2 linked regions of the Homo sapiens genome follow. The protein of the gene in region 2 purifies or fractionates together with the protein of the main gene of each other region. This does not show direct contact. Each region holds a gene or a part of one and is shown on either strand. Other genes may lie near its edges.

Region 1 (3,822 bases), on a different chromosome or scaffold from region 2:
GGTTGTTAGTTGCCTTGTTTTGTCCAGTTCTGCCTAAACTGAAATAGAAGTTTTCTGTTTGGCCTCAGGCTCCACAAATCTAGAGGGATATATTGACAGGAGGAAATGTGAAGTCTTGCTTCTTTGAACTCACATGGTCTGGTAGGAGGACAGGTCTGCAGTAACTGGGAACTTGGGTGAGTTACCCAACTGCTGAGCCTTGGTTTTCTCGCCTAAAAGAAATGTCTCCAATACTTAGCATGGAACCTGGTATGTAGTAATAGGTCTTTAGTAAATGTTTAAATGGCTATTGAAACTAGGCTTTGTGAACAAAAAATAAAGGAACAGATCCTGGAAAAGATGGGTAGAGCATGAACCTTGCAAAATTTGAAGAGTTACTATTAGTTGAAGGATGGAATAGATTTACTCCCTACTTTTCCAGCTGCTAGGATTGAGGAAAAACGGATTTTTGATGCGGCGTAGGTTAGAACTTCATAGTTTTCACAAAAAGACAAGCGTCCTTTACATCACGCTTCTAATGTAAAGGGCCAGATAATACATATTTTAGACTTGTGGGTTATATTATGGTCTTTGTTGCAACCACTCAGCTCACCTCATGTAGTGCAAAAGCAGTCGTAGACTCCTATATGAATGTGCGCTGTGTCTCAAACTGCTTATGGATAGTAAAATTCACTTAGTATATTTCATATCATTTTATGTGTCATGAAATACACATTTGTGTTTTTTTTCCAATCACTTACAAATGTAAAAATGATTCCTAACTTGTAGGTTCCACAAAAATAGGCAGTGGGCTGGCTTTGCCCTGTAGGTTGTTGTTTGTTAAGCCCTGCTGTAGGTGATCAACTGTCATAGTCTGTTTAGGAATCTGGGTTTACTCAAGGGTTGGGGATGTATGGAAGTTAGACGGTATTTCTAACTTTCATCCCAGCTCTAGACTTAGAGCTGGAAGATCTGGGTGGTAATCCTCCCTCCTTTCCTCCTTCCTTTCCTTTCTTTCTTTCTCTTTTTTTTTTTCAAGAGTCTTGCTCTATCTCCCAGGCTGATGTGCAGTGGCTTCATGTTGTCAGCTCACTACAACCTCTGCCTCCCGGGTTCAAAGCTATTCTCATGCCTCAGCCTCCTGAGTGGCTGGGATTACAGACGTGCACCACCCCCGCCTACGCCCCCCCCCCCCCGCCCCCGCCCCCGCCCCGGCTAATGTTTTGTATTTTTAGTAGAGACAGGGTTTCACCTTGTGGGCCAGGCTGGTCTCAAACTCCTGGTCTCAAGTGATCCGCCCACCTTGGCCTCCCAAAGTGCTGGGATTACAGGCATGAGTCACTGCACCCGGCCTTCCCTTGTTCTTAGAAGCTTGTTAAGTAACTCATCTTGTACTTGTCTTAACTATCCTAAACTTTCTCATCAGTAAAATAGGAGGATGATAACCAAATAATTGAGGCTTAAATGGCATTAGCGTGTAAAAGCAATTCTACAAAACGTTTTCCATTTTTAAAGAGGAAAAAAAACCCATCCAACTCTCAAACCATGAAACCAAACCTGTTTTCCCTTCCTCAAGATTTAGGATTTGAAAGTATTCTATAAACTGATTATATCACCAGAGAAAGCTGTGAGGTCAAGAGGACCTTAATTTATTTAGCAGTCAAGTAACCACCATGAGACTTTGTTCACGTGGGACTGAATAAGGAACGTATGCTGTAGTAAAATGGAATAAGTATTCTCTTTATTTGTATGTCTTAATAATTCCTTTTTTCCTCAGTAGATGTGGAGTTATTCCCTTGAGAACTCCTGTAATAGTTAATTCAAATTTCAGTAAGCTCTCAATGATTAGTCTTGACCTTCTGAGAGAATATTTATGTTTTCATTTTCAAAAATGGAAGTAAGCTTTTAAGAATGAAATCGTATCTGGTGTGTAAAAAATTGTTTTAAAGTTGATTAGTTTGACAGGATGATCAGGATTTGCAGGGGAAGGTAGGTCTTTTGAATCTTTCTTCCTACTTTGCGATAAGATTCCTGCTCTCTCCTGTGCACCACAAGGCTTTTACTTACATTGACCAAAAGCAGTTGTGAATAAAGTCTCAATCTGTAGTTCAAATGGAAGTCACAGAGACCAGGACACCTTTCATGGATGTTGGCCAAGCTAGGTCAGCGTATGTTGTATATGGTGTAGCTGTCTGAAAAGATTGGAATCACCAAAATTAGTAAAGAAAAAGAGTTCATTTGACTTCAGGAGTTGATAGTGAGGCAGTGAGGTCAAACATGCATGTGTGTTTTGACAATAATAGCCTATCTTAAATGCTCTTTTTCCTGTGAGTTGCTGAGAATATTATTTATTCATTTGCCCCAGCAGCAGTGTGGAGACCTCTCATGTGCTCTTCCTTTGAACTACTTTCAATTCCTGTGTACCAGAATAGCGTTTTTTTCATTCTTGCTGTGATATCTAAGAATCATAGACTGTTCCCTCGTGCTCTATAATGATTTTAACCACGGAGAATATTTTCATGGTATGTAGGCAACACTTTCTTCGCATTGTTCTGGTTCACAGTTTTGGATAACTGTGATTCACAAAGCCAGGCCTCAAATGAATTCTTTTGTAAATAAGGAGTGATAGTTTTTATATTGTGAGCACTCCTAGGTGGAACAGGACCAGCCTGGGGTCTTTTTTCAATTCAGATTCTTGAACCCAAACCACGAGATTATAATTTTCAATGTTTGGATGGAGACAGGAATCTTATGTTCCGAGAAGCTTCTTTTTGGAATGCAGGTGGATTTAGGAGCCTCTGGATACGCCCTTCTGTGTTTCAGACCCTTAGGCTCTGCGTGGAGGTGGGTGGGGGTGGGTTGGGGATCTGCCTGGCGGAAGAGGAGCTCTCGGTGGACCAGACTGGTTCTTTCTGCAGGCTCCTTGACCACTGCTGGTTGTTAACTGAGTAATTCCAGGAAGGGAATATTAAAAACATCAGGTAGTTAGCTAAGGGCGTTGTAATTTCTGTTTTCTGTCTTTATTGCCTGGCATGTTTGTCCACCAGAATGTAAGTGCTTTAAAGCTCAGATTCATTTTCTGGTCATTATTTTCCACAGCTCAAAATACTGCAATCGTTGCATAATTGTTGAGTTACTTTAATGGAAGAGTGAATTACAGGAATGAATCTCCATTCCTGACTCCTTACTTACCTCGAGGTTCCTCCTCCCCTAAGCATTATGCCTCTTGCTGTTCTTTTTACTCTTAGTTCCTCATCTGCTTACATGGTTTCAACTCTAGAATGGAGAATTTCACTGTTTCCCACACAAACTTAATTCTCTTCAGCCTTTTAAGCTGGGCAAGGTTTTGGGGTTCACGTTCTCTAGGAAGTCTGGGGAGGGCCTATTATGAGTCTAGATATGACTTTAAATCCAATTATAACCTCAAATAGAATTTTATGAAAATTTAAACAAGTACATATGAGCATATTTCAGAGGGAGAGAATCAAGAGCTTTCATCTGATTCTCAGAGGGATATAGGACCCAAAGCAAGTATTAAAAACTGCATCGAGACCTTTGAACTAAGACTTATCTGTGGCTGCCCTCCACGGACCACTTTGACATTATTTTTGTTGAACTGTCCTCTGCCACAAATTACAGTAAAACCATATTAAAACCTCACTGATTGGGTTTAGAAGTTGTATGCTATTTCTAGTCTTTAAGTGGCTAATTTTGCAGCTATGCATACATGATGTCTAAAGATAGTCAGTATTTAATGGCACTTCTGACAATGTAAAGATTTTACATTCCTTGAACCCTGGTGCATTCCTGAACTCACATGCTACTGCTTTCTTATTGCCCATG
Region 2 (3,822 bases):
TACATTCCAGCCTGGGTGACAGAGAAAGAAAAGAAAAGAAATATACGTGATACCCTGCTGATATAGTGGAATCCATCGTCTGAGGAAGTATTCTATAAACTTTTTCAATCTGCCACACATTTCCAGATATCTAAATTTTCCCTGACACAGACTGGAGGGATGGATAGGGGCAGGATTTTATCTTCAGAACAAAAATTAACTGAATGTTGGTTAAGGTGGCCATATAATTTATTGCTTAAACCAGGACACTTAAGACAACCCTTTGTAAAAAAACTTTTGTTTTCTTTTTTTTTTTTTCCCCGAGACGGAGTCTTGCTCTGTCACCCAGGCTGGAGTGCAGTGGCATGATCTCAGCTCACTGCAACCTCTGCCTCCCAGGTTCAAGCGATTCTCCTGCCTCAGCCTCCCAAATAGCTGAGATTACAGGTATGCACCACAATGCCTGGCTAATTTTTTTGTATTTTTAGTAGAGACAGGGTTTCACCATGTTGGTCAGGCTGGTCTTGAACTCCTGACCTCAAGTGATCTGCCCACCTCGGCCTCCCAAAGTGTTGGGATTACAGGCGTGAGCCACCGCGCCAGGCCATAAAAAACTTAATTGGAGTTTGTTCTACATGCAGAATGATGAATCTTCTGTCTATGACACCTGTGAAACCAGCACCTAGATTGAGAAACAGAATGTTAGTAGGAGTCTTCAAAATCCCTTGTGTGTTCCATTGTAATTGCTGTATCCTTCCCCACGAAGGCAACTACTATCCTGACTTTTCCAATGCAGAGATGAGTTTTGCTGGTTTCTATACTTCATATAAATTGAATTACACTATATACTTGTTAACGTCTGGCTTCTTGAGATTGACATTATAGGTTGATCCATATTACTGGGTCTAGTTCTAGTTGTAGATCGTTTCTTTCCATGGTGTAAATTTATTTATTCATTCTATTGATGATGGGCATTTGGGGGAGTTTCCAGGTTTTGGTTACTATAAATAGTACTGCTAATAATATTCTAGTATCTTTTGATGATCATATAAATATTTCTTTTTGGCATATACCCGAGAGTGAAATTGCTGGACAATAAGGTATGCATAACTTTACCTTAAGTAGATACTGCCAGTTTTCCAAAGTTTTGTTCTCATTAAAGCACTCATCAGCAGAACATTAGAGTTCTGACTGCTGTATATTCATTTTGATACTTGGTGTTTTCCAGGTTTAGCCATTCAGATATGTGGTAGAGGTATTCTCATTCGGCTTAAATTTGTATTTCTCTATTGCATGGTTTAAATTTGCATGTTTTTCTGTTCCTTTCTTTTTCTTATCAAACTAAGACTTTTTTTTTTTTTTTTGTCTTCCTCTGTTGCCCAGGCTGGAGTGCAGTGGCGCAATCTCGGCTCACTGCAACCTCTGCCTCCCGGGTTCAAGCGATTCTCGTGCCTCAGCCTCCAGAATAGCTGGGATTACATGTGCATGCCACCCCATGCCTGGCTAATTTTTGTATTTTTAGTAGAGATGGGGTTTCACCATGTTGGCCAGGCTGGTCTTGAACTGCTGACCTCAAGTGATACCCCGCCTCAGCCTCTCAAAGTGCTGGGATTACAGGCATGAGCCACTGGGCCCGGCCAAACTGAGACATTTTTAAGAAGAAAGGAGACAACAGGCATAAATCAGATTGTTAAGATTAGGAATTTGGTTTTGGATAAGTTTGAGATGTCTGGGAAGCAAACGCCGTACGGAAATACCAAGAAGACATTGGATTATGCAGATCTGAAGCTTAGAAGACAGTTCTGGGCTGGAGATATAAATTTTTTGGAGTCCCTGCCATGGAGACAGCATTTCAGTGAAAGAGTGAATGAGATCACCCACAAGAGGGAGTGCAGAGGGAGAAAAAGCCCTAGGACCGAGCCTGAGAGGCACCAAGGTTCATTCACAAGTTGGGAGTGAAGAAAATGCCAGCAAAGGAACTCCTCCACCGTCCCCTAGAGGGAGCCACTGAGAGGCAGGGGTAACATGGGGAAGAGGGGAGAAGCAAAAGCCAAGGGAAAAAGGTTTCAAAAAGGGAGTGTCCAGTGTGTCAAACTGTTCATTTTGTGTTGTTTAAAAAACAAAACAAAACACATTCTGTGTCCTTTCGTCTTTCCCTAGCCATCATCGTCTACAGACTGCCGTGGACCTGGAAATGCAGCAAGCTCCTGATGAAATCCATCCATGCAGGGTTAAATGCAGTTGCTGCCATTCTTGCAATTATCTCTGTGGTGGCCGTGTTTGAGAACCACAATGTTAACAATATAGCCAATATGTACAGTCTGCACAGCTGGGTTGGACTGATAGCTGTCATATGCTATTTGTTACAGGTCAGTATTTCAGTGTATTTACAAGCAAGTTATAAAAACAATTCAGAGACTGTAAATGTTTTCTTTTCTTTTTTTTTTTTTTTTTTTTTGAGACAGAGTCTCGCTTAGCCACCCAGGCTGGAGTGCAGTGCTGCGATCTTGGCTCACTGCAACCACTGTCTCCAGGGTTCAAGTGATTCTCCTGTTTCAGCCTCCCAAGTAGCTGGGATTACAGGTACCCACCATCGTGCCAGGCTAATTTTTGTATTTTAGTAGAGATGGGGTTTCACCATGTTGGCCAGGCTAGTCTTGAACTCCTGACCTCAGGTGATCCGCCTGCCTCAGCCTCCCAAAGTGCTAGGATTACAGGTGTGAGCCACCGCGCCCAGTGACTGTAAATGTTTTCTAAACATTCTTTACATTTGTTTCTATTATAACTATTTTCCCCTCAGAGAGCACCAGAATTGCAGAATTCACAGAACAAAATAATAAGAAATAAAGATTTCTTATACTGGATATGACTTTTAATCTGGATTCTCTAAAAACCAACTTATACTCTGCTCTATATCTTAATATGTAAAATTAAGAAATATCAGGCTGGGCATGCTGGCTCATGCCTATAATTCCAGCATTTTCGAAGGCCGAGGTGGGAGGATCATTTGAGCTCCGAAGTTCAAGACCAGACTGGGCAACATAGGGAGACTGTCTCTACAAATAAAGGAAAGACAGAGAGAGAGATCGAGAGAGAGAGAAATCAAGAGAGAGACTGATCTAACAATTAGCAATAAAGAGAATACCTATTTAAAAATCTGTGGGTCCTGGCTGGGCATAGTGCACTGCTCACTCCTGTGATCCCAGCACTTTGAAAAGCTGAGACCAGTGGATCGCTTAAGCCCAGACGTTTGAGATCAGCTTGGGCAACATGGCGGAACCTCATCTCTAAAACAAAAACACAAAAATTAGCTGGGCAGGGTGGTGCACACCTGTTGTCCTGGCTACTTGGGATGATGAGGTGCACAGCTCCCTTGAGACCAGGAGGCAGAGGTTACAGTAAGCTGAGATTATACCATTGCACTCCAGCCTGGGCAACAGAGCCAGACCCTGATCTCAAAAAAATAAATAAATAAAAATCTTTGGGGTTTAATTAAAATGGTTCCCAGAGGAATATAGGCTTAAATGCTTTTATTATATTTTTTGGAAAGAAAACTTAAAATACATAAGCTATTTACTTAGGTAACTATAAGGGAACAGCAAAATATACCAGGAAAAGTAAATCAATAAAGGTAAAAAAAAATCCATAAATAATTCATTTTCTATTGTGGTAACCAATTACCACAGACTTAATGGCCTGAAACAACATAAATTTATGACCTCACAGTACCTGTACATCAGAAGTCCAGATTGGCTTGTCTGGTTTCTCTGCTCTGGGTCTAACAAGGCCAGTATCAAGGTGTCAGCCTTCCAGGGCTCTGATTGGGAGACTAGGGTAGAATCA

Evidence for each region.
Region 1: the proteins of CYBRD1 (region 2) and CDYL purify together in Homo sapiens (affinity purification with mass spectrometry; 2 studies listed by BioGRID and IntAct, with this or other methods). This does not show direct contact.

Annotation. Positions count from the first base shown.
Region 1 is NC_000006.12:4,779,237-4,783,058, forward strand, and holds part of CDYL (chromodomain Y-like protein), read left to right. Parts: intron 1-3,822.
Region 2 is NC_000002.12:171,539,446-171,543,267, forward strand, and holds part of CYBRD1 (plasma membrane ascorbate-dependent reductase CYBRD1), read left to right. Parts: intron 1-2,139; coding exon 2,140-2,348; intron 2,349-3,822. UniProt on the Homo sapiens protein: Plasma membrane reductase that uses cytoplasmic ascorbate as an electron donor to reduce extracellular Fe(3+) into Fe(2+).